Homo sapiens: one gene and its partners. The protein of the gene in region 5 purifies or fractionates together with the protein of the main gene of each other region. This does not show direct contact. Each region holds a gene or a part of one and is shown on either strand. Other genes may lie near its edges. The genes, in order: SRFBP1, GPALPP1, SRSF4, POC5, ARGLU1, CCDC9 and ZC3H14.

Region 1 (3,500 bases), on a different chromosome or scaffold from region 5:
CAGTAGTCCCCCCCACCAACAATTTTGTTGTCAGCAGTTTCAGTTACCTGCGGTTAGCCAAAATTCCAAATATAAATAACTCATAAATTTTAAATTGTGCACCACTCTGAGTAGCATAATGAAATCTCTCACTGTACTACTCCATCCCACATGGGATGTAAATCATACATCCAGTGTATTTCTGCTGTATCCGTTACCTGCCCATTACTGTACAGAAAATAATAATAATAATAATAATAATAATAATAATAATGACAGAGTTTGGTACTATCTGAGGTTTTAAGCATACACTGGGGGTCTTGGAACATAACCCCCATGGATAAAGGGAGACTACTACAATTTATAATTTGTAAAACAATATGCAGTTTAAAAGTATACAACACAATACTATACACTGGGTATAGATACGTATGTTACTAAAATTGTGAAAAATATATAAGAGAAAAACACACACCAAGAGGAATAATTACCTCTGAGGTAGAAAAGAAGATGGGTGGAATTAAATATTAAGATATAGCAAAACACTGACATTTCCTAAACATAGGAAGTAGATTATAAGAAGATCTGTTACATTATTTTCCATACGTTTGAAGTAATTCATAGTTAACAAAATTATTGGGTTTCTTGTCTTTGTTCGAAACAAGGTCTGGCTCTATTGCCCAGGCAGGAGAGTAGTTGTGTGATCTCGACTCATCACAACCTCCGTCCCCCTCCCGGGCTCAAGCCATCTTCCCACCTTAGCCTCCCAAGTAGCTGGGACTACAGGTACGTACTACCATGTTTGGCTAATTTTTCTGTATTTTTTGTAGAGACGGGGTTTCACCATGTCGCCCAGGCTGGTCTCAAACTCGTGAGCTCAAGTGATCTGCCGGCCTCAGCCTCCCAAAGTGCTGGGATTATAGAGTGAGGCACTGCACCTGGCCAAAATTATTTTTGTATGAAGAGGACCCTAATTTTATCATATGGATGATAACTTATTGTTGATTTTACTTTTTATTTCTGATGAGCAACAATTTTTTAAAATACCTAGAGTGCTTAGTGATTATCTACGATTTAACCATTATTGGGCATATGCTGCCACCTAGCAAAACTTCCCAGAATAGTTTAATAACTAAACACAAATTGGTTCTTACGGAAATGCCCTAATTTAATATTTCAGAAAAAAATTATTAAAAAGTACTATGCACCTAATCACGACACAAGCGTTTTGTAACTTCATAAGCGCATACAAACGTGGTTCTTGACATTCTTATGTTTTACAATATGTGGAGGAAACTCATTTTGTTCTTTGGCACTTTAGTTTCTACCTTTACTGTCTTACATGAAATGAAAAGCAATTTTCTAATGGGCTTAATGGTAATTTGCTATCAAACAATAAAATAGGCCAGGCGTGGTGGCTCATGCCTGCAATCCCAGCACTCTGGGAGGCTGAGGCAGGCGGATCACGAGGTCAGGAGATCGAGACCATCCTGGCTAACACGGTGAAACCCTGTCTCTACTAAAAATACAAAAAAAAAAAAAAAAAAAATTAGCTGGGCGTGATGGTGGACGCCTGTAGTCCCAGCTAGTCGGGAGGCTGAGGCAGAAGAATGGCGTGAACCCAGGAGGTGGAGCTTTCAGTGAGCCAAGATCCTGCCACTGCACTCCAGCCTGGGCGACAGAGCGAGACTCCGTCTCAAAAAAAAAAATAAAAAATAAAAAATAAAAAAAAATAAAATGTCAGTTGTACATATAGGCCGTTGGCCTTCCTATGAAATTAAAGCACTCCATCAGATTGCTACACCTCCTAAATCTGATTTTTACATATCACTGCTGCCTAAATTTTAGAAAACAGATGACTTGAGAAAATCTAGCTCTAGTTTTGCAAATTATTTACGCACTAAATGCTATGGCACTGTTGTTTTCAATTGTGCATTTCTCCTCTAGTTCTAATGGAAAGGGAGGAAAAAAAGCATTTAGGAGATTTTCCCTCTCATTTGAACATTAGTTGACAGTTATGCTATCCATGCTTTCATCTGCCCATTATATACCTACTTCTTATTACCTGTAGACAAGGTACTGTGCTGGAGGTTAGGGAAGCTGCTATAAAAGCAATCAAAAATTCTCTCTTCAAAGTACCAAAAATATGCAATAAATAATCATCAGGATAGAGTAAAAAGTGATGGTTTATTTTTTAGAAGAGTAAAGATAAATTTTTACTTTACTTCGCAAGAATAACAACAAACTTTAATCTTAATCTCTTTACAACATACTTAGTATTGGAAGTTCTGGCCGGGGTAATCAGGCAAGAGAAAGAAATAAAGCGTATTCAAATAGGAAGAGAGGAAGTCAAACTGTCTCTATTTGCAGAAGACATGACTGTATATCTAGAAAACCCCATTGTTTCAGCCCCAAATCTCCTTAAGCTGATAAGCAATTTCAGCAAAGTCTCAGGATACAAAATCAATGTGCAAAAATCACAAGCATTCCCATACACCAATAATAGACAAACAGAGAGCCAAATCATGAGTGAACTCCCGATTCACAATTGCACAAAGAGAATAAAATGCCTAGAAATACAACTTACAGGGATGTGAAGGACCTCTTCAAGAACTACAAACCACTGTTCAAGGAAATAAGAGAGGACACATACAAATGGAAAAACATTCCATGCTCATAGATAGGAAGAATCAATATCGTGAAAACAGCCATACTGCCCAAAGTAATTTATAGATTTAAAGCTATCCCCATCAAGCTACCATTGACTTTCTTCACAGAATTGGAAAAAACTACTTTAAAGTTCATATGGAATCAAAAAAGAGCCTGCATAGCCAAGACAATCCTAAGTAAAAGGGACAAAGCTGGAGGCATCATGCTACCTGACTTCAAACTATAATACAAGGCTATAGTAACCAAAACAGCATGGTACTGGTACCAAAACAGATATATAGACCAATGGAACAGAACAGAGGCCTCAGAAACAACACCACACATCTACAAACATCTGATCTTTGACAAACCTGACAAAAACAAGCAATGGGGAAATGATTCCCTATTTAATAGATGGTGTTGGGAAAACTGGGTAGCCATATGCAGAAAACTGAAACTGGACCCCTTCCTTACACCTTATACAAAAATTAACTCAAGATGGATTAAAGACTTAAACGTCAGACCTAAAACCATAAAAACCCTAGAAGAAAACCTAGGCAATACCATTCAGGACTGAGGCATGGACAAAGACTACATGACTAAAACACCAAAAGCAATGGCAACAAAAGCCAAAAATGACAAATGGGATCTAATTAAACTAAAGAGCTTCTTCACAGCAAAAGCAACTATCATCAGAGTGAACATGCAACCTACAGAATGGGAGAAAATTTTTGCAATCTATCCATCGGACAAAGGGTTAATATCCAAAATCTACAAAGAACTTAAACAAATTTACAAGAAAAAAACAACCCCATCAAAAAGTGGGCGAAGGACATGAACAGACACTTCTCAAAAGAAGTCATTTATGCAGC
Region 2 (3,500 bases), about 62 Mb from region 5:
ATAAAAGTAAGGACATGTCTGGCTTCACTTTTTTATAGATATCCTTCTGAACTATGAATAATCTCAAAAAATTATTTTGGGAACATGTAATGAACTATTCCATATCTCTCCTAAAGCAGTGATGCTTGTCGTCATTAAGGAGGCTCTCCTATTGCAATGATAATTTTCCAAATAGATTATAAATTCCATGAGAACAGGAGTTACGCGTTCCTTATATTTCACTTATTTCCCTTTCATATCACACAGAATTGTGATATGCATATAAAAAAATGAACTCAGTATAATACATAAAAATCTCATTACAGATCAGCATTAACAGATGAACATCCACAACTGATTCTGATGACTAGGAATGCTAACTTGAACTCCGATGAAATGAAATGTTACTCCCCCAAAACCAATTCTGTTCTTCTCATTAGTAGACCTGTATTACAAAAAAATTATATGGTATTATGTTTTAGATTGCAACAATAAAATTTTGTGAAGTTTGCTTCCTTCTTGTTGTACACATACTTTTACAATAATCTTGATTTTGCCTACTGACCTACAGTCAAAAGTACAGTTGTCCCTCGGTATTCTCGGGAGATTGGTTCCAGGACCAACTCCCCTGTTTGCAGCTACCAAAATCTGTGGCTATGGCCTTGGTTCCACTTCCCTTGAATATTGTACTTTCAATCTAGAGTTGGTTGAACCTGAAGACTCAGAACCTGCAGATCTACAGGGTCAACTGTATTTACTATCTGGTCCTTTACAAGAAAAGTTTGCTGACCCCATGACATGGTTAAATCATGCAAATATAAAGAAGGGGCACCCAACCCATCTTTTACAGGCAGTAGGTAGTTAACATCAAAGAATGTTTCCTAGAAGCAGTGATGTAGGGGTGGGACCTGAGTTAGCTGGGCAAAGAAGGTGGGGACTGGACGAAGAGTAGTCCAGGCAGAAAGAAAAGCATCTGCAAAAGCCTGAAAGCAAAAGAGTCATCACATTTAGAAAACTGAAAGGTGTTCAGGATGGTTGGAACCAAGAGAGGATAGAGAGGGGCCAAATGTTGCTGTGAGGTCAAGGAAGACTAGGACTGAAAAGGAAGCCTTGAATTGGTGAGGGTCTCAGTGGACTGGTGAGGGCAGAAATGCAATGGGTTAAGGAGAAAATAGAAGACCCAGAGACAGTGAGAAAGAAAAAGATGCAGCTAGAGGGGGATATGAAGTAGAGTTTTCTTCAAAGATGGGAAAGATTTGAATGTTTTGGTTAAATGCTAAGGGCAGGCAGCCCTAAGGACAGGGAAGGGAGTCAGAGTAAAAATGGAAGGATTAGCTTTAGAAGGAAGCAGTATACCTCTTCTATTGTTACCAAAGGGCAGACAAAAAGCTTGGCGTGGATTTAGGATAGTTTTTAGATACAGTAACAGAAAATTGAGGAAGTTCTCTTATGATGGCATCTACTTGTTCAATGAAGTAGACGGAAAAATAAAAGTTTTAGAAAGAAAGGGAAAGTTTTAAAAAGCCAAGGTTGCAGATTGGGGAAGAGAAAGGAGGTGAAGCCTGTGAGGATTACTGGACAGACCTATGGACCCAGTTAGGGAACAGGCCATCTTTTAGCAGCATTAGCTTGTGGAGGCGTGAGGTTTCTTCTAGCAGCATTAGGAAGCCTGGCTGTAGGCTCACAAGGGGTAAACACTTGGACTGATCCAGGGCTGGGCTTTTGTTAGATGGGTTTGGCAGAATACCCAATGGGATAAAGCAGTTGAGAGCACCAGCAAGAGAGTGGATGAATGGGTGGACCATGGAGTCTAACAGGAGTAGGGATGTAAGCACTCCTCTCAGATGGAAGTACTTAGGGATAGAAGTACTTAGGGATGGAAGGCTCAATGAGGTTAAAAAACAAAAATAAAAAGCAAATGAAATGGGAGTAACTTGAGTGAGAACAATGAATGAATAAGGGGTTCTTGCTGAGAATGAGATTTGAATTTGAGTTTTTGGAGCTGGAGTAGGGTAGACTCACTACTCCAGCTTAAAATGTAGGTGAAATTAGTGGAGGTGAAGGTCACTGCAGATAGGAGACTGGAGTTAGAGTCAAAATGGCCAAGGCTCCACTCAGCTTCCATAGAACAGCATATGGAGTCTGTGGATCGCTCTTGAGAAAATATTTGCACCCCAGGGTTTCTAATGACATGACGTTGGGGGACATTTTCCAGCAGTCAATTTTCAGAGTATTCAAATGAAGTTAACTTGTTCCATCTCAGACCTGTGTGCTCCCTCACTCCTCTTTACTCTGGTCATGCTTGTCAGATCTCCTTCTGGGACAGCAGAGTGTGAGGAACACAGGACAGATAACAGACTGGATTCAGGAATCTTCACTTGAAGGTAATCCTGACACCTGCTACCACATGGATGAAACTTAAGGACATTATGCTAAGTGAAATAAGCCAGTCCAAAAAAAAAAAAAAGACAAATACTGTATGATTCCACTCAAATGATGTACTTAAAGTAGTCAAATCATAGAGACAGAAAGTAGAATGGTGCTTGTCAGGAGCTGGAGGGGGGAATGAGGAGTTATTACTTAGTGAGTACAGAGTTTCTGTTTTACAAGATGAAAAGAGATGTGGATATGTTGGTAATAGTTGCTCAATCATCTGAATGTATTTAATGCCACTGAACTGTACATTTAAAGATGGTTAAGATGGTACATTTCATGTTATGTGTATTTTATCACAATTTTTAAAAACTGGAAAAAAAAAAAAAAAAAAAAAAAAAGAGGCTGGGCACAGTGGCTCACGCCTGTAATCCCAGTACTTTGGGAGGCTGAGGCAGATGGATCACTTGAGCCCAGGAGTTCCAGACCAGTCTGGCCAACATGGTGAAACCCCATCTCTACTAAAAATACAAAAATTAGCCAGATGTGAGGGTGCATCCCCGTAATTTCAGCTAGTCAGGAGGCTGAGGCAGGAGAATCACTTGAACCAGGAGGCAGAGGTTGCAGTAAGCTGAGATCATGCCACTGCACTCCAGCCAGGATGACAGTGAGATGCTGTTTAAAAAAAAAAAAAAATCCCGTTCCCAGCCAGCCATTAGGTTTCTTCCAGACTCCATACAAAGGATTATGGTTAGCTGTATTCATGCAGGTCCTGGCTTCTCCAACCCCCATAAATCCTGGGCCCCTCTTAAGGAATTTTTTTTTTTTTTTGCGACAAGGTCTTGTTTTAACACTCAGGCTGGAGTGCGGTGGTGTGATCACAGCTCACTGCAACCTCAAACTCCTGGGCTCAAGCAATCCTCTTGCCTCAGCCCCCCAAGTAGTTGAGACTGCATGTGCATGCTACCATGCCTGGCTAATTTTTAAATTTTTAGTAGAGATGAGGTCTTACTATGTTGCCTAGGCTGTTCTTGAAGTCCTGGGCTCAAGTGATCCTCCCACCTTAGCCTCCCAAAGTGCTGGGATTATAGGCATGAGCCACTGCGCCTGACCAGGAATTTTTACTGTCCTCTACTCCGCCAAAAGGA
Region 3 (3,972 bases), on a different chromosome or scaffold from region 5:
ATCTTCCTTTTGGGTTGCTCACTTCTTCCTTCCAGAGCCTTTGAATTCCTACTCATTGATTTCGAATTTTTAGTGTAAAATCTAATAGTCGTTGTTTCTGGTTTATGTTGTTAAATTTCTAGATTCTTCATAAGGCTTGATCCATGCTAGATTGTTTATTATTTTTCATAATTGCTTCTTACTGGACCATGTCTTCAACACCAATTATGACATTAAAAAAATATTTTTTCCCTATTCATCAAAAAGCAAAAAAAGTCAGCATTGTACTTATTTTATTAGAGATGGGGGTCTTGCTGTTACCCAGACTGGAGTGCAGTGTCACAATCATAGCTCACTGTAGCCTTGAAATCCTAGGCTGAAGTGATCCTCCTGCCTCATCCTCTGAAGTAGCTAGGACTATAGGCGAGTGTCACCACGCGTGGCTAATTAAAAAAATTTTTTTCTTAGAGATGGGGTCAGGCTGGTCTCAAACTCCTGGCCTGAAGTAATCTTCACACTTCAGCTGGGATTGCAGGCACAAGTCACCATGCCTGAGCCCCAACTACGACATATACTATTCCCAGAAACCTAAATTTCTTCACTTCAAGCTCTAATCTATTCTTCAAAGCCATTTCAACACATCTTTTCAAGCAAATCATTCCAAGTTTTACTAGAGTTTAAAGCGAAAGCAAACATTTCTTAATTCAAAGTGCACATGTCATAATGCTTAATTTATTCAAGAGCAGAACTGTTTTCTGCCTCCTCCCCCAATTCATTTAGCACAGTGGTGGACATTTTGTTGATGGGTTATCAATACATTTGGTTGATGAATCAGTTTCCCATTAACAGTCTTGTCATTTCCTGCACACTATCACCTGAGTAACATTAGAAAAGACCTCACCAAACACGCTTTATGTTATCAAACACCAACAAGCAAAGATGTTTCCTCATCCCTCTGATTATAGCTGCCACTTACTGCCTAAGCCAAATGCTTTACATTTATTATCTCTAATCTTCCTTTTCCACATGAATGAACAACCAGGTTCAGAGAAGTAACTTGCCCATACGTAGTAAGTGGTGGAACCAGGATTTGACTTAGGCCTGGCTGGCTTCAAAATCCACACTTTGTCCACAAAAGTTAGTTATGCTGTCAATTTAGCTGGGCTCTGAAAAAAACTGGAGTTTCAACTTTCACATATATGGTATGTATACAATAACGTCTACCCGCCACTTCAATATATCCTTAAGAACTGAACGTTTTACTGTAGAAAAGGAGTAGTTTTTAAAGCCTTTTACTGTAAAAGAAATCAGTACTTTACTAAAGACGTCCTCAGAAAGAAAACGATTCTAATAATTAATTTGAAATGGCTTTTTAAACCCAAATCATCATTTGAGAATACGGTAGCTACCAGTTTTCTCATACGTGAAACATACTTAGGTAACTTTCAAAATGTTTCAGGTGTCAGTTACTAGTATAACCCTGGGGAGTAAACGGTAGCTATATTACAACTGTTGCAAAGTAGAGTTTCTTTTTTAAGCCAAGAGTTCTCTAACACCCAAGGTTTAGTGCCCTAAAATGTCACCCCAGTCCTTTTAATTTTATATCCATGCCTTCCAAGCCCTACCTAACATCTGGTTCCCAGTTTTCCCCGTTGAGTATTTTCTCCAGGCCTGATTCCTCAACAGTTTTCCCTAAAACCTGTAGCTCATGCTGGCACTATTTTTGCCGAAGTAGATTAAGAATACAAGTAATAGATCATACTCTGGGGGAGGCAGTAAGTTAACAATTTCGTCTCCGTCTGCGTTAACCAGACGCAGATACTAGCCAGGGTGGCCACTATTCTCCTAACAAATTCTACAACGGCCAAGCAATTTTTCGGTAAGTTGGAAAACGGAAACCACAGCGTGGAAACTCTGCACGGAGTCTTAAAGATAAGAAGTTAAGACTTTAATTTACTCTTGCAGAGGGAACGGTGAAGGCTTTCAGCACGGCAAGACGATACTTTCGAAACTGTCACTAGACTACTCAAACTGGAGTCTCCCGCCCAAAAAAGCGTGGCACACGGCTAAAAAGGGCCTCCCTCCAAGGCTCCAGTCCTCGGGGAAGACGGCGCTGTGACCGTCTGATCCATGAGACCGGGCAAGAGGTGAAAGGGAGCAGGAAATCCTGTTTATTTCCAGTAGTCCTCAGAGCGGGAAAGGTTGGTGTCTACCCAGAAACGAATAGGGCCCCAGTTCCGGGCCTAGGAAGGGAAAACCCAGGTCTCCCGGGCGCCCTGGAGCTGTGCCCCCCTGCCCGGAGCACCAGCCCCACTCGGGCTTTCCTTCTCCCCGTCCCACTCAGGGCCTCAGCACAGCTCCCATTATGCCTCCACCACCCCCACCCGCGCAGGCGCAGTGGGAACCGGGGCCTACCCGCGCCCCCGAGGCGCCGCCACTATGGCGGAGCCTGGCCAGGCCGGTAGCCGCTCCGCGCGGACCAGGCGTCCCTCTCCCGTCCCCGCGGCCTCCCCACCACCTATGGGGTCTGTCCCCGCCCGGCCGGACCCTCTTTCGCCCTCCTCACCCGTTCTTCAGATCCACCTCCAGGATCTTCCCGTAGCCCTTAAAGAAGCGCTCCACATCGCGCTCCCGGGCCTGGTAGCTCAGGCGGCCGATGTACACCCGCGGCATCCCGGCAACGGCAGTGATGGCTGGCCCCGGCCCCAGCCCCCCTTAGGCGGCGGCGGGCAAAGCGAGAGCACGGCGGCAGCGGCGGCGGCGGCAACGGGCGGGCGGCGGGACGGACGCAGCCGAACCCCGGCGACGTACGCGAGCACGCAGCTCGCGAGCGCGCGCTTCCACTTCCCCCGCCCTTCCCCGAGGCGGAAGGTAACCGGAGAGAGCGCGCGTTCGCTTCCCGCTCGGCCAGGACTGGGGGAGGAGCTTGCCCGGGGGCGCGCCGACGTGCGGCGGGGCAAGGTGATCGACAGGCGGCGCTGCGGCACGTCCTCGCGCGAGCTCGCCAAAGGGGTTCCTGCACCGCCTTCCGCAGCCAGCTGGCTTCGCCCCTCCCCCGGAAGTGTCCGCACCTCCTAGAGCCCAGCGAGCGAGCGTTTGTGCTTTTGTCCTTTGAACCGGGTGTGGTTTGGATTTCGGAGCTGGAGCTTTGGAATCAAACCTAGCTTCCAAACGATTGTGTACCCGTGACCTTGGGCTTGTTACGCGCGATGTCTCGGACCCTCCTTTATCTTTTCTGTAAAAGGGGGAGAGTAGTTCCTACCTTCCAGAGTTGTCTTGAGAATTATATGAGAATACGTACATAAAGCACTTAGTAGTTTTGTCATATCAAGTGCCCAATAAATGAGACCAGTATTATTTTTAAGAGGACACTGCTTAAATAGAAGCAGTGTGAGAAGCGGAGAAGGCTGGAGCTTTGGAGCTAGACTAGGCATGACGCCGAGTAAATTACTTGACCACAATCCAACCTATTTTTTTTTTTTTGAGACGAGTTTCGCTCGGTCGCCCAGGCTGGAGTGCAGTGGCGCGACCTCAGCTCACTGCAACCTCCGCCTCCCGGGTTCAAGCGATTCTCCTGCCTCAGCCTCCAGAGTAGCTGGGACTACAGGCGCCCGCCCCCACGCCCGGCTAATTTTTGTATTTTTAGGAGAGAGGAAGTTTCACCATATTGGCCAGGCAGGTCTCAAACTCCAGACCTCAGGTGATCCGCCCGCCTTGGCCTCCCAAAGTGCTGGGATTACAGGCGTGAGCCACTGCGCCTGGCCTATCCAGTCTATTTTCTAACCTGTAAAATTAGAATAATGTATACCCATCTCAAGGATTACACAGGTCACTAAATGGGGTAGTGTATGTGAAAGTACTTGGAACAGTGTCTGAAACATGGTAAGAGCTCAATAAATATTGGTTCCCTTCTCACTAACGCCATGTACCTAGAACCATAAAGGGTTTTGTTTCTTTGCTTGTTTTTGTTTTTTGAATATTTTGAAAGGATAA
Region 4 (3,500 bases), on a different chromosome or scaffold from region 5:
TCCAACCTAGGCAACAAGAGCAGAAATCCATCTCAAAAAAGAAAAAAAGAAATTGAAATTATTTTTTCCCATTGACTTTTAATAATAAAATTAACATTGTTTTCATGGGAAAACATTTGGAATTGAAATGAAATAAAATCCATTCTAAAGAATGCAATAGGCCTCTTGAAGTTAAATATTAAAATGAAAAAATAACTCATTACAGCATTAAATTGTTAAGATTAAAAATAAATCCATAATACAAATAATTTTCTGCAGTTCACTACGACATGCAAAAAATGCAGTCCCCTGAGGTTTGGCCTATGGGAAAGTGTGTTGTACCTAGGGTCACTCTGCACTTCAAATACTGAAGGTAACATTTACATTATAAAAATTCTGTTAATATTGCAGGCATGTAGTTTATTTTATTTTTTTCTGAAAGGGCTGTCTGTGGCTCTTAATGTATTTTGTTTAACATCCTACATAAAAGTTTTACAGTAAAAAATGGTGTATCTTTTTGTGAAATGAAAATACATCAGCAATATTCAATGGGACTGGATAAAATTCCCCTTGTTTGAACCTTGATTTTAAGGTTAGGAATGAAAGCATTTTGTTGATGGAGATAATAGAGGTAAGAGGTACCTTTTAAAATAAATTGCACATAGCAGAAGAGGTAAGTGACAAACTTTTTAATATTTCACATGAGAATAATCTCAAAGTATATATCTATTTTTTTGACAGTATTCTTCTTTGTATCTCAAATTGTTTTGCTTTTTAAACATTCTTATTTTAGTTATCTGGAGCTTTGGAAAATGCAAAAGCTGAGATTCAAAGAATGCAACATGAAAAAGAGCACTTTGAAGATTCCATGAAAAAAGCTTTCATGAGGGGTGTATGTGCATTAAATCTTGAAGCCATGACTATATTTCAAAACAGAAATGATGCAGGTTAGTATTTCATTAAAGTTTCTCTGCCTAATTTCAAAAAAAGATTTGAGGAGATTTTGGTGATTGGTATGGTCTACAGTACAAATAATCTGCAGTAGGTATGTTTCATCCAGGTGCTGCTATTCTTAATTCTATGGTGTCATATCCAGACTTAAATCTGCCATGAAAATGAGCTCAGTCATGGTTACTTATGGTATCTTAGATCTGATCAAGTACACTGTCACTCCTAAGTATTTAAGCTAAATGTTGAAAATAATATTTTAATGTATAGCATTATTTTAAATCTCTTTTAACTAAGAATTTTAATGCCTTTTTAAGTACAAAACTTCTAATTTTGTCTTTTCTTAAGTAGCCAAATATTTTGGACTATTTTGGTAAGTATTTGTTATCTAGTCATGGTTTCTCATTTTAGAAATTCCTAATCTTCCTGTTTATGAAAGGCCTCAACTAAGCTCATTGCAGCAAACATAAATATAGACCTATCTATAGAAGTAATTTTATTTTTTTTAAAAATCCACATATTGTCTGACATAAGAGTGGTTTGTGTAGTAGTTTTGTCAGCATGGCGTAGAAAAGCCCATAACTAGAATCCTTTGCCACCAATTTACCCAGGGGCCTGTTTTCCTCATTCGGCCTTAGATTTCTTCTCTGAGCGAAGGAGATAATATAAACCTTCCTTACCTGCTTCCTAGGGGCTTCTTGTGGGATGCAGTAAAACATATCTGAAAACACTTTAAAAGACAAAATGCACTTTAACGTGTAAGATGATAGTCATGATGTAATTATTAATAGTTTTAATTCAAGTCAACGTCTCAAGATTTTGTAAATGATTAACATGATTTCAATCCAATGAATAACTTCTCTGTGCTTGTGATGCCCTTATTTTAAAACATCAACAAACATTTATTATTTAAAGCATGCATATTGTGGATAGGAGTAAGTTTAGGCAAATTGCTTTCTATCTGAAGTGGTTGTGGTTTGTGGGCCATATTTAATTTAGAAACTGAGAATCATGGAATCTCAAGGCTGAATAGTTTATTTTGGTAATACCTAGGTGAGTACTTGATTTTTCCAATAAATGGTCTTTTATTTGAGTATCAGGGTTGAAAACAAACTCACCACCTTCAATGATAGAATAGTCTGTTTCAGTTCTAAGTATCAGCAAGTTGTGTGTCACAAATTGAGAAATTTAATTGTTTACTTGGGAGAAATATGAGTTTCACAAGTAAAGTGACAAATTCCTATTAGAACTTCTTACATTAAATTACAAGAAACCTGTTTCTTATAACCTACTTAAAAAGATTTTGAATTGACTTAGGAGTATTTCCCACCTTAATACATTTACCATCTTAAAATGTAAATTGAAATGCAACTGTGTCTCCTAAAGGCCAATATCCATAAGAGGATTTGAAGAAAATGTCTTCTGCTAATTACACAACATGATTTCTTTTGCTCCTGTTACTTTTGAAACAATCGATGAGAAAGATGACAAGAATGGTAAAGCATGCATTAGCAATAATGTTGGTAGAGCTACCAAAGGCAAAAAAGTTCAGTATAATTCAGTGGATCTGCTTTGTGATATTTAGGTTTTATGACATTTTAATGACACCTATTTTTTTTAGTTCTCATAAGAAAAAAAAATTACTTTTGGCCCCCTTCTATTAAAACAACTGTTTTTTATAGGCCAGGCGCGGTCGCTCACACCTGTAATCCCAGCACTTTGGGAGGCCGAGGTGAGTGGATCACGAGGTCAGGAGATCGAGACGATCCTGGCTAACATGGTGAAATCCCGTCTCTACTAAAAATACAAAAAATTAGCCGGGCGTGGTGGCAGGCACCTGTAGTCCCAGCTACTCAGGAGGCTGAGGCAGAAGAATGGCGTGAACCCAGGAGGCAGAGGTTGCAGTGAGCTGAGATCATGCCACTGCACTTCAGCCTGGGCGACAGAGCGAGACTATCTCACAAAAAAAAAAATTGTTTTTTATAATGCAGTTTTTAATAATGTAAAGTTCCTAATGCATCTGTCTTGTTAGAGCAAAATAAATATTTGGTTTTTTATTTGTACCGATTCTTTGCTGTCTGTAATTTGCAGTACCTCTCATGTTGTGCAGTATCTTAAATCTTACAAATTAGAGGTTTTTATGAAGAAGTTAGAACATGACAAAAAGTCCTTAAAATTATATCTGCCAATTTTACTGTGCCAATTAGGCACAGTAAAAAAAAATACTTGACAAGTGAAAAATTTATTCCAGCTAAAATGAGATTAATTATTAAACTTAAGAGTTATCTGATATCAGCCTATATTAGCAAGAGTTGATCACCTGCCTCTCTTCCCTGACCTTCATACTGTTTCTACATCTCCTAATGTCTGCCACCATCTAAAGATAGACACTCAGAATCTCTACCAAAACAAGTTAAAACTCAGTGTGTGTTTTGTTTTCAAATTAAAAGTATTTTATATTGAATTAGTCCCTTTCATCAGAGGAGTTCAAAGGATCTAGGTAGGCACTGTAATCATTGTTAAACTTCTTAAATAAGCTAACTAACTAATACTCTGCAAATTTTCTATACAGA
Region 5 (3,500 bases):
CAAAGTAGAAAGAAGGCCCTAGGAGTAAAAAGTTGCCATCTTAAGAATTTGGTGAAGGCAGAAGAGACCTGATACACACTCAAGGTTATTTTTGGCAGTCAAGCCATCCCTCAGCAAAAGCGCAGTGGCTAACAGGGCCTCATTTCCATAGCTTTGGTCAGTAAGGAGAAAATGAGCCAAATAAATTTACTTACAGCAAATGCCAAATCAGAATGTCAGTTCCCTGCTTCTATTTCCACTGATGACATCAAACCAGAGGGCCCATGTAACAGGCAGTACAGGCAGGCCGTGGGCTGCTCCGCTGCTAAGGAGTCAATTCTAACTACAGCTCAGCGACTTTATAGCCCAAAGGGAGGGCAAGTGGAAAGTCCCACGCTCAACTGAAACACTGGAGAATGAGAAATGACCTAGTGCAGTTTCTCACAAAGCTGCTTATCTCCCTTTGTTCCTGGAGGAACTGCAAGGCATCCCAATATGAAAATGAAGCTTTGCAACAGGCAGGGTTCAGGGTACCACAGCAAAACTGTTTGCCTGCAAGTGTTAGCAAGAATATAATTTCTGCTGTTTTTCTTGGTAAAATTAAAAATGCTACTTCAGTAATCAGAAAAAAATTTTAAATCAAATTTTAGAAACAATGCTGAAGGAAAGCTCAATTTTATCCCCTCACCATACACTGAATTCAGCAAACCAGTGAGCACATATACAACTGAATTAAGCATGAGTTCATCTTTACTGATGGCAAATTTATCATCATAATCAATGATAAAACCACTATTATGCCTACTCCCATAAGAGGCACTGAACTTTCTTGAGTGGGTCAGTGTCTTGCAAAATAGGTATCATCTAACAGCCTATTCACTCCTCAAAACCCTTGCCATAGCAGTTGTCACCCTCATGATGTTCTTTTCTCTAATGTTTTCCTCATGCTCCTCTGCTGAATATCCATTTCCCTGCCAATAATATGTTATACTGACGAAAGCATTAAATCAAGATCTTCAAGGTTTTCAATGAAATGGTATAATACTAGGTCCTATTTTCTCTGTGCTCTCAGGTATTTTAAAAACACTAGTCAGGCTGGGCGCGGTGGCTCACGCCTGTAATCCCAGCACTTTGGGAGGCCCAGGCAGGTGGATCATGAGGTCAGGAGATCGAGACCATCCTGGCTAACACGGTGAAACCCCATCTCTACTAAAAATAAAAATAAATAAATAAATAAAAAATAAAAATTAGCTGGGTGTGGTGGCGGGTGCCTGCAGTCCCAGCTACTCGGGAGGCTGAGGCAGGAGAATGAGCTGAGATTGCGCCACTGCACCACTGCACTCCAGCCTGGGCGACAGAGCAAGACCCTGTCTCAAAAAAAAAAAAAAAAAACAAAAAAAAAAACCACTAGTCACACTGAACTTTAAAATGCTAACTATTAAAAACAAAACAGTAAGGCTACAGCACTTCGGCACTGTTACAGAGTAACTGGCACCATTATTTTAAAACATCTTTAAAATGTGGGAACTCAATCCTAGGGGTTTACTTCTAGGAATCGCTTAATAATTATTAGCAAACAGCATTTACTTATTACTTAATAGGTAACATATAATATTGTGCCAAAAGCTTTATATACCATGTCATCATTTAAATCACATAATTATTCCTATGCAGTGGGTATGTATCCCATTTTTACTGAGGAAACTAAGAACAAGGAGCTGAAGTTTCTAGACTCGAGCACACTGGATGTTGCTGAGCTGTTTCTCTGAACCTAAGTAGATGCCAAAGCTAACGATCTCAAGCAAGCACTATACTACCACCCTACACCGGTTTCTGCAGGACAAATAAGCAAGGCAAAGACAAGCACACAGATTTAACGACCAAAAAAAGGAAGAAAAAAGTATAGGCCAGGCACGGTGGCTCACATTTGTAATCCCAGCACTTTGGGAGGCTGAGGTAGAAGGATTACTTGAGGCCAGGAGTTCAAGATCAGCCTGGGAAACATAGTGACTCTGTCTCTACAAAAATAATAAATAAATAAATGAATACATATTCTTAACATCAGCTAGGTCTTATGCCTTAATGTTCTGTCAGAGCCTTAACCTCCAAAAATATGCGGTTCCATATAATCAATTTTCTCCTAAAAGCTCTTCTTTGCTCTCACAATGAACTGCCCAAGTATTCTAAGAATCACTTATATAGATCCCAGTTCAGTGTAGATACTCTAATTTAGAAGGCCCTTAATCCGTCATCCAGTTGAACACGGAGGATATTCGAACCTAGATATCACAGGCTAGAGTAAGTTACTATGCCATTAACATTTTCCTGATTTGCTGCAAGTTATTTTCAGTTGTCTATTTTTTCAACAGTTAATATAACATGCATGCAGCATCTCAAAAGAGCATTTAAGAAAATGGTGCTACTGGTGTGGGGGAGGGGTGAGAAGAACCACACTGAATGGCTGGGACGCAAGGATGAGAGGAAGATCTTTTGAACTGAATTTTGAACCATGTGAACTGCCTATTCAAAATTGAGGGCAAAAGTCTTTAAAAATGTAAAGGCCTACCTTCTCAGCATTAAGATGACAACTCATAAGATCACTTCTGAAATTCATCAGGCTCGGTCTGGCTCCATGTAAGTTAGTTACATTAAATAACATTACTTATTGAGAGCTATTACATGCCAAGTATCACCTACTTTAAATACATCATCTCCAATTTTCACAACAAGCAAGACAGATTATCTCCATTTCACAGATTTAAAAACAAGGTTAGAGGGAGGTGATTTATTCAGCAACTCAGAATTATAAGTGGTAAACCAATAAGGTTTCCAATCTTACCAAAGAATTCCTAATTAGTTAAACCCAATGGTTGATTCTTATTTTACGGTCTCTTTCCATCTAACTAGATTTCTTGTAAGGGCACTTGACACTATGCATTTTTACCATATTTCTTTCTGCTTCCACCATAGGCTCTTCTCCCTCTTCCTAACTGCAAATACAGGCATGTCCTAAGGTTCTTTCAGTCCCTTGAATGAACCGCTCTCCTCTCTCCACACTCTCCCTGGGTCATTCCATATACTCTCAAGGTTTCACGACATTCAGCGAAGCCCCTCTCAGCTAGGCTTCAGTCTCACATGATCAAGTCTGGATAAACTCAGTACAGTATATCCAAAACTAGTGCTCACAGTGAAGGCACCATTCTCTTATCCCCTTTCCCTCTCCCTTATCCACTATTTAAAAAGTTTCTGACATTTTTACCAGTACCTGCCACATGGTTGTTACTGAAACATTTGGTAGATGAGTTGCAACAGCCACACTATAAACATGAGAACCAACATTCTTTTTCTGAAGTCCCACATTCCATTTAATATACCCTGAATGTTTCTTAAATCTGTCCCTCTTTTCCATTCCAACAACCATCCTCACTACTCCTGTGTAAACTTCTGTACCCACCTCTTAGTTTCCATCCTACACAACAATCAAAACAAAAAAGGCACCATGTCATTCACCTGCTTAAAAT
Region 6 (2,965 bases), on a different chromosome or scaffold from region 5:
TACAGGTGCCAGCCACCAAGCCCGGCTAATTTTTGTATTTTTAGTAGAGATGGGGTTTCACCCTGGTCTCGAACTCCTGGCCTCAGGTGATCCGCCCACCTGGACTCCCAAAGTGTTGGGATTACAGGCGTGAGCCACCGTGCCCGGCCCTAATATTATCTTAGCTGGGGGTTCAGGAAGGCCTCTTAGCAGAGCCCTGAAAGGAGGTGAGGGAGTGAGCCAGTGAAAAACGTGGGAAGAACGTTCCAGGAGCAGGCGCTAAGGCCCTGAGGCAGGAGCTAGGTGTGGTGGAAGAGCCTGCTTAGCTGGAGAGGTGAGGGAGACTGGTGGGAAAGGTCAGATAGGGAGTTGTGGGTCATGTACTTGGGCAAGGGTCTGTGGTGATCCCCCCAAATTTTTGTTTTGGCGCCCACATTCTGAATCTTTTTGTATTTGTCACTATGCTGTCAAATTTGCCTCTTGCCCATCACCTGGTCCTATCCTTTGTTTTTTTTTTTTGAGATAGGGTCTCCCTCTGTCACCCAGGCTCGAGTACAGTGGCTTGATTACTGCTCACTGCAGCCTTGACCTCCCAGGCTCAAGTGATCCTCCCTCCTCAGCCTCCCGAGTAGCTGAGATTACAGGCACGTGCCACCACGCCCAGCTAATTTTTGTATTTTTTGTAGAGGTGGGGCTTCACCATGTTCACCACGCTGGTCTTGAACTCCTGGGCTCAAGCGATCTGTCTGCCTCGGCCTCCCAGAGTGCGGGGATTACAGGCTTGAGCCACCATGCCCGGCCCTGTCCTACTTCTAGTGTCCCCTGTCTGGTTGACCGTCTGTCTCTGATCCGATTCCTGACCCTGACCTCTCCCATCTTCTTGATCCTCTTGTTACCCTGTTCCCCCAGCTGCCCGCTCACCCGTTATCTTTCCCCCAGGTTCAAGGATGGCCCAGTCCCTGCCCATGAACCATCCCACCGCTATGGTGAGTGGGTGCCCTTGGATGAGCTGAGGCTCGGTCTGGGAGTCAGGGGTGGTGTGTGCCACACCTTCCCTTCCCAATGACACCTGGGTTCTGTTGCAGATGACCAGGCCTGGGCCCGGCCCCCGAAGCCCCCTACTTTTGGGGAGTTCCTGTCCCAGCACAAAGCTGAGGCCAGCAGCCGCAGAAGGAGAAAGAGCAGTCGGCCCCAGGCCAAGGCAGCGCCCAGGGCCTACAGGTGGGGCACCCCTTCTGCGGGCTTGCATACCCCCAGGGCTCTCCGCAGGGCGTTCTCTTCTTTGGCTTGCTGTGAAGGTGTGGGTACATCTGTCTGTCCCTGTCTTTGTCTTGGCCCTGTCTATCTCGCAGGTCCGTGGTTTGAGGGGCTTGGGATCTGGCTCTTGGTTTTACCCTCATCTGTCCCCTTTCTGCCGTCACCCATCTCCTCTCCTGCTACCTGCCCCACTTTCGTTCTGTCCTTGACACATGGGGACACACATCCGCCATTCCCTCAGCCCTCCACCATGCCAGATGCTCTGGGCAGCTCCTCCCTAGGGAGGGTGGAGGCAGGAAGCCCCTTCCTCCTGTCTACTCTCCACCCAGGCATCACCCCTCCCTCTGTTCCCTCTAGTGACCATGATGACCGCTGGGAGACAAAAGAAGGGGCAGCATCCCCAGCCCCTGAGACTCCACAGCCTACTTCCCCCGAGACTTCCCCCAAGGAGACACCCATGCAGGTGAGGCTGGGCTGTGGTTCAGGGCACGGGCCTGGGGTGGGGGCTCAGGACCTGTGCCTTGCCCTGACTTGCCTGTGTCCCCAAAGCCACCCGAGATCCCAGCTCCTGCCCACCGGCCTCCTGAAGACGAGGGGGAAGAGAATGAGGGGGAAGAGGATGAAGAATGGGAGGACATAAGTGAGGATGAGGAAGAGGAGGAGATCGAGGTGGAAGAAGGTGATGAGGAGGAACCAGCCCAAGACCACCAAGCCCCAGAGGCTGCCCCCACCGGGATCCCCTGCAGTGAGCAGGCCCACGGAGTCCCCTTCAGTCCGGAGGAGCCCCTGCTGGAGCCCCAGGCCCCTGGCACGCCTTCCAGCCCTTTCTCACCACCCAGCGGCCACCAGCCTGTGTCCGATTGGGGTGAAGAGGTGGAGCTGAATTCTCCCCGGACCACTCACCTGGCTGGCGCCCTCTCCCCGGGTGAGGCCTGGCCTTTTGAGAGTGTATGAAGCTGGCTGCCTGTGTGTGTGTGTGTGTGTGTGTGTGTGTGTGTGTGTGTGTGTGCGCGCGCGCGCGCGCGCGCGCGCGCGCTAGAGGGGTGTGGCTGGTGGGGGACCCTTGGGGCTGGGCCCTGGGACCCAGTGTGCCCCACAGCCCTGTCAGCTGAGGGGGTAGCGCAGCCCATGCTCTTCTGTACTGTCATGCCCGTCTCTGGAATGTCCACTCCCAGAGCCTGCCCCAGCCCTTCGAGCCCCCTCCCCAATAAAGAATTCACATCCTCCAATGACATTCCCCCAGGTGTGTCCTTGAACCCCCTTCAACTCCCCCTGGGCCTTCTCTCTTGGGGTGGGGAGATGTCAGGCGGGAAAGGGGGCTTGACTGGGGCTCCCCTTCCCTAGGAGGTGGCCAGTCAGCCCCTGCCTTCCCGGAGAGTGGGCCCAGCCTCCGAGGAACCCAGGAAGCTGAAGAGGAAGGGTCTGAGGCAACTCCAGGTGGGGGAGTGCATGGGGCATGGGATGGAGGCCGCTGCTTCCTCTTTCTCTGGGGCTGAGGGGCAGAGGGCTTGGGGGGAGTGGGGTGAATGTGTGTAGGTAGCAGTTGGACCATAGAGGTGAGGTGAAAAGGGTGAGCTCGGATAGGGATGGGGGGCTGGAGCCGGGTGGCAGGGGTGGGGCAAAGGGGCAACTTTATGGGCCAAGCCAATAGGAATTTGGTATGGAGGTTGAGGAGGTGGGGTTAAGGAAAGGATTAGAATTTTGGAGTCGAGCTCAGGGGTTTTGGAAA
Region 7 (4,218 bases), on a different chromosome or scaffold from region 5:
TTTTTATATATCTTGTTCTATGTGCTTATGACTGAAGAATATGAAAAAATCTGGTCTCACAGATATGCAGTTGAAAAAGGAGTATTCTGATAGTCTTTTCAGATAAGGTGGATATTCTTCTGTGACACTACACCAAAACTAAACAAGTGGTAGCTTATTAAATGTTAAAGCAACGTGGAATGTCAAATACGTCAATGACCTTTTTGAACTGTTGCACAAAAATCCACTGACCCACCCCAGAGTTTAAATAAATCTTTAATCCACTGCATAATTTTGTAATATTATGCATTGGTTATTTAGAAAAGATTGGTTCACTTAGCTACAAAAACCACTGACACGTTGATATATTTCATTATGCAGTATAAAATAATTATTTTTTAATATCGCCATTGAGTTGGCCGGATGCAGTGGCTGACACCTGTAATCCCAGCACTTTGGGAGGCTGAGGCACGCGAATCACAAGGTCAGGAGTTTGAGACCAGCCTGGCCAACATGGTGAAACCCTGTCTCTACTAAAAATACAAAAAATTAGCTGGGTGTAGTGGCAGATGCCTGTAATCCCAGCTACTCGGGAGGCTGAGGCAAAAGAATCGCTTGAACCCGGGAGGCAGAGCTTGCAGTGAGCCAAGATCACGCCACTGCACTCCAGCCTGGGCAACGAGTGAAATTCCATCTCAAAAAAAATAATAATAATAACAAATTTTTTTTAAATCACCATTTATTTAATCAGAAATTTTTTAAGTACTGGGAAGCTGTGAAATTCATGGAGGCAGGCTCAGATTTTCCAAAATTCTAATTTTCATTTGAAAGCTCACATGTGATTGGCAACAAAGACTATGGATTCTTTTCTTTGCTCACTTTCAAGTAAATATCTGCCAAATATCCTAGTGTATGTAACCAGTTTGTCAGTACTTTGAAGTTAAAAATGATGTTCCCTGAAAGAGGTGGCTAGCTTAGTTCTCAACTAAAATGATTTTCCTCAGAACAATCGTATTTCAGTATACAATAAAAATGTTTTATGAGCATTTCTATTTCCTCGCACTGAATACTAAGAAGATAAAAAATATTTTGTAAACCCTGGACTTCACATCTTCATCAATGACATTTTAAGTGTAATTGGCTCAAAAAGAAAAAAACTACAAGGGGGGAGTGATTTGAATATGATTTCATTATGGTGTTACTATGCTGACAAGTTTTATCAACCATTAGTTTTACACAATCCAAACACCACCACCACAGTGAAAAATAACAAATACCATCTTAGTATTAATATGAAAACAGTTTTGACTTCAGAGGCCCTTGGAGTCTCCCACACTTTGAGAACCACTGTCATTAGTGGTAGCTATTATTTTTATAGGAGGCACCAGCTTTGGGGGCAAACCATAAAACCTTGCTCAAGTAGGCAAAGCCTCAGTTTCCTTGTTTACACAGTCAAAGATACTGCCACTTACCTTCCAGGATTCTCGTAGGGATTATCCTGAGTTAATACATATACAATAGTTAAGCACAGTACCTGACCCAGAGTAAACACTCAAATTATAAAAGAATAAAGAGACGGAAAAAGCCTTACTGTTTCAGAGAGAGAGGGAAAACATAAAGAGATCGGAAAATAAAACTCACTGAACCATTACAGAAGCAAATGCCAGAAAGCATCAAACATTCACATCCAACATCAGAGTTCTAAAAACAAATGTCAAGAGGAAAGTAACAAGAATAGGAAACTTTAAACAGGCATGGTGGCTCACACCAGTAATCCCCGCACTCCCAGCACCTAGGGAGGCTAAGGTCAGATAATTGCTTGAGCCCAGGAGTTAAGACCAGCCTGGGCAACGTAGCGAGACCCGTCCCTAGAATTTAAAATGAGAGAGAGAGAGAATAGGAAAAACATAAAATAAAATTCGGTCAAACAGAGCCTTAACGGAGGAAACTAAATTTCAAAACACCATAACAGAAGGAGGTTTGGGAGAAAAAAAACAAGGTTGCAAAAAGATGATAAAGAAGTAACCAGGGAGTATAAGATTTGAAGAAGGTAGAAGGGAGTCTCTCCCAATGTCCAAAGTACGGTGAGAAATACGCATTCACTAAAATTCTATTAGCTGCAAACTCTAAATTCTGTAAGACTAACAACCAAAAAAACACTTACCAACATAAGCTCCTAATTCTTGTAATTTCCCCTTAATGGCACTCTGAGAGAAAAAGAGCAAACGTGCATGTGAGAAAGGCGGCTCTAGGAAAACAAGACCGGACTCTGCAGCGGCTGAGGCCACTTTGCTGGTGCGCGCACCTCGGATCCCCCGGGCGGGGGCTGGGAGGAGCCTCGCCTGCACCGCCCCCCACCCCGCACCCCACTCCAGCTCCAGCCCCAGCCCCGCGGCGCCCACCTCCCGCAGCGGATCCAAAGCGGCGCCGTGCGCCGCGGTGGTGGCTCCAGCCGGGCCTGCGCCTGTCCTTCCATTTCCCGGCGGCTACTTCAGCCGCAGCCACGCTCCGAGGCCGCAAATGTCCCCAGGGCCGAGGCGGCCTGGACGAGGAGGAGCCGCAGCCCGCCAGGAGCGTCCAGCGGAGGCCAGGCCGCGGCGTCCACCCGGGCCCACAGTCCCCGTTACTCCTGACAACCGCCCGCTCGCCGAGACCTGGCTTCCCACCCCCGACCGGCACGGGCCTCACCCGGATCTTGCGGCTGATCTCGGTGCCGATCTCCATGGCTCTGCGGCGTGCGGGAACTCAGCACTGCGCGGCGCTTGGCTTACCCGGAGGCTGCCGCGGACTCCTACCCCGCAGCCGGGACACCACCGCCTCCTCCTCCGTTCCGCCCCCGGCCGCGCACACGGCGTATCCCCGCCCCGGCCGGCACTGCGCGCCGGAGTGAACGCGCATGCGCCCGTGTCCGCGCCTGCGCACGCCTTCTACCCGCGAAACCTGTGCTCAGGCAAGGAGGGCGGCGGCGTGCGCGTGCGGGTGGTCTTGCAGCTCCGCCTCCCGGGCACCTCGGGGACCTTTCGTTAGTCTCTCTGCTGGCCCTCCGCTTATTCATTTTATTCTCTCTTGGATGGTAAGAATGAATTAAATGTGTAGCAGAAAGATCTTGGGCTGTGATATGAGACGCGAGTTCAAATCCAGCCCTCACTTACTGTCAGTATGGTATCGGTCCAGGTATTTCAACTTTTCTTACCTGTAAAATGGAGTCTGCCCATTAGAGGTTGCACTGCAATTACCCTTGAAGGGAAAATGGACTATCCAGAGCAACAGAGCCAATCCGTCAACTCTTTGACTCTGCAGTACACTGGCCCTCCTGGGTTTGGTTCTGCCTTCCTTCTTCCAGGGCCACCCGTGGCCTCTCCCCGAGACGAATCCCATCCTCCTGCTTCTCTGAACACCCTCCGTGGGACAACACTTTTGTTCTTAGGACTTAAGTTGTCAACTCTGTGCTGATAATGACCGAATTTTCCATCAGCCTTGAATTCTCACACAAACCCCACTCCCAAATTCTAAGTAACTACTCTTATTTTCTCCCAACTCAGCGCTTAGACAGAAGTCGCCTTCATCTCCCCTTCCTCCACTCAATAGGTTACTACTGTTGATTCCCCTATTTGTATCAATAGCCGAATTCTCCCTATCCCTGATCACAAAACCTGGGAAACAGAGGAAGCACAGAGAGGTCTCCTTTCTCCCTCATATCCACTAATTCCTGAGAGTGGTCTCTGTTATCCATTGCTGCATAACAGATGACCACAAATTTAGCAGCTTAAAACACAAACGTTTATCATCTCATGGTTTCCGTGGGTCAACCTCACTGGGTCCTCTGCTCAGGGTCTCACAAGGCTACAATCGTGTCAGGCAGGCTGTATTCTCATCTGGAGGCTTGACTGAGGAGGAATCTATGTTCAGGCTCATTCAGGTTGTTAGCAAGAATTCATTTCTGGCTGAGTGCGGTGGCTCATGCCTGTAATCCCAGCAGTTTGGGAGGCTTAGGCTGGCGGATCACTTGAGACCAGGAGTTCGTGACCAGCCTGGGCAACATGGCAAAAACATGTCTCTTCAAAAGTACAAAAAATTAGCTGGGCGTGGTGGCATGCACTTCTAGTCTCAGCTAGTTGGGAAGCCGAGAGGGGAGGATTGCTTGAGCCTGGGAGGCAGAGGTTGCAGTGAGCCAAGATCATGCCACTACAGCCTTGATGAGAGAGTGAGACCCTGTCTCAGGAAAAAAAAAAATAATTC

Evidence for each region.
Region 1: the proteins of ARGLU1 (region 5) and SRFBP1 purify together in Homo sapiens (co-immunoprecipitation; one large-scale study listed by IntAct). This does not show direct contact.
Region 2: the proteins of ARGLU1 (region 5) and GPALPP1 purify together in Homo sapiens (affinity purification with mass spectrometry; one large-scale study listed by BioGRID and IntAct). This does not show direct contact.
Region 3: the proteins of ARGLU1 (region 5) and SRSF4 purify together in Homo sapiens (affinity purification with mass spectrometry; one large-scale study listed by BioGRID and IntAct). This does not show direct contact.
Region 4: the proteins of ARGLU1 (region 5) and POC5 purify together in Homo sapiens (co-immunoprecipitation; one large-scale study listed by IntAct). This does not show direct contact.
Region 6: the proteins of ARGLU1 (region 5) and CCDC9 purify together in Homo sapiens (affinity purification with mass spectrometry; one large-scale study listed by BioGRID and IntAct). This does not show direct contact.
Region 7: the proteins of ARGLU1 (region 5) and ZC3H14 purify together in Homo sapiens (affinity purification with mass spectrometry; one large-scale study listed by BioGRID and IntAct). This does not show direct contact.

The regions. Positions count from the first base shown.
Region 1 is NC_000005.10:121,964,975-121,968,474, reverse strand, and holds part of SRFBP1 (serum response factor-binding protein 1), read right to left. Parts: intron 1-3,500. UniProt on the Homo sapiens protein: May be involved in regulating transcriptional activation of cardiac genes during the aging process. May play a role in biosynthesis and/or processing of SLC2A4 in adipose cells.
Region 2 is NC_000013.11:44,996,038-44,999,537, reverse strand, and holds part of GPALPP1 (GPALPP motifs-containing protein 1), read right to left. Parts: intron 1-3,500.
Region 3 is NC_000001.11:29,179,101-29,183,072, forward strand, and holds the start of SRSF4 (serine/arginine-rich splicing factor 4), read right to left. Parts: upstream 2,801-3,972; 5' UTR 2,653-2,800; coding exon 2,546-2,652; intron 1-2,545. UniProt on the Homo sapiens protein: Plays a role in alternative splice site selection during pre-mRNA splicing. Represses the splicing of MAPT/Tau exon 10.
Region 4 is NC_000005.10:75,686,438-75,689,937, reverse strand, and holds part of POC5 (centrosomal protein POC5), read left to right. Parts: intron 1-772; coding exon 773-926; intron 927-2,609; coding exon of another isoform or gene 2,610-2,728; exon of another isoform or gene 2,729-2,990; intron 2,991-3,500. UniProt on the Homo sapiens protein: Essential for the assembly of the distal half of centrioles, required for centriole elongation. Acts as a negative regulator of centriole elongation.
Region 5 is NC_000013.11:106,561,638-106,565,137, forward strand, and holds part of ARGLU1 (arginine and glutamate-rich protein 1), read right to left. Parts: intron 1-3,500. UniProt on the Homo sapiens protein: Dual function regulator of gene expression; regulator of transcription and modulator of alternative splicing. General coactivator of nuclear receptor-induced gene expression, including genes activated by the glucocorticoid receptor NR3C1.
Region 6 is NC_000019.10:47,269,489-47,272,453, forward strand, and holds the end of CCDC9 (coiled-coil domain-containing protein 9), read left to right. Parts: intron 1-918; coding exon 919-965; intron 966-1,064; coding exon 1,065-1,200; intron 1,201-1,593; coding exon 1,594-1,699; intron 1,700-1,785; coding exon 1,786-2,190; 3' UTR 2,191-2,465; downstream 2,466-2,965. UniProt on the Homo sapiens protein: Probable component of the exon junction complex (EJC), a multiprotein complex that associates immediately upstream of the exon-exon junction on mRNAs and serves as a positional landmark for the intron exon structure of genes and directs post-transcriptional processes in the cytoplasm such as mRNA export, nonsense-mediated mRNA decay (NMD) or translation.
Region 7 is NC_000014.9:88,561,619-88,565,836, reverse strand, and holds the start of ZC3H14 (zinc finger CCCH domain-containing protein 14), read right to left. Parts: upstream 2,801-4,218; 5' UTR 2,704-2,800; coding exon 2,668-2,703; intron 2,491-2,667; exon of another isoform or gene 2,382-2,490; intron 2,187-2,381; coding exon 2,144-2,186; intron 1-2,143. UniProt on the Homo sapiens protein: RNA-binding protein involved in the biogenesis of circular RNAs (circRNAs), which are produced by back-splicing circularization of pre-mRNAs.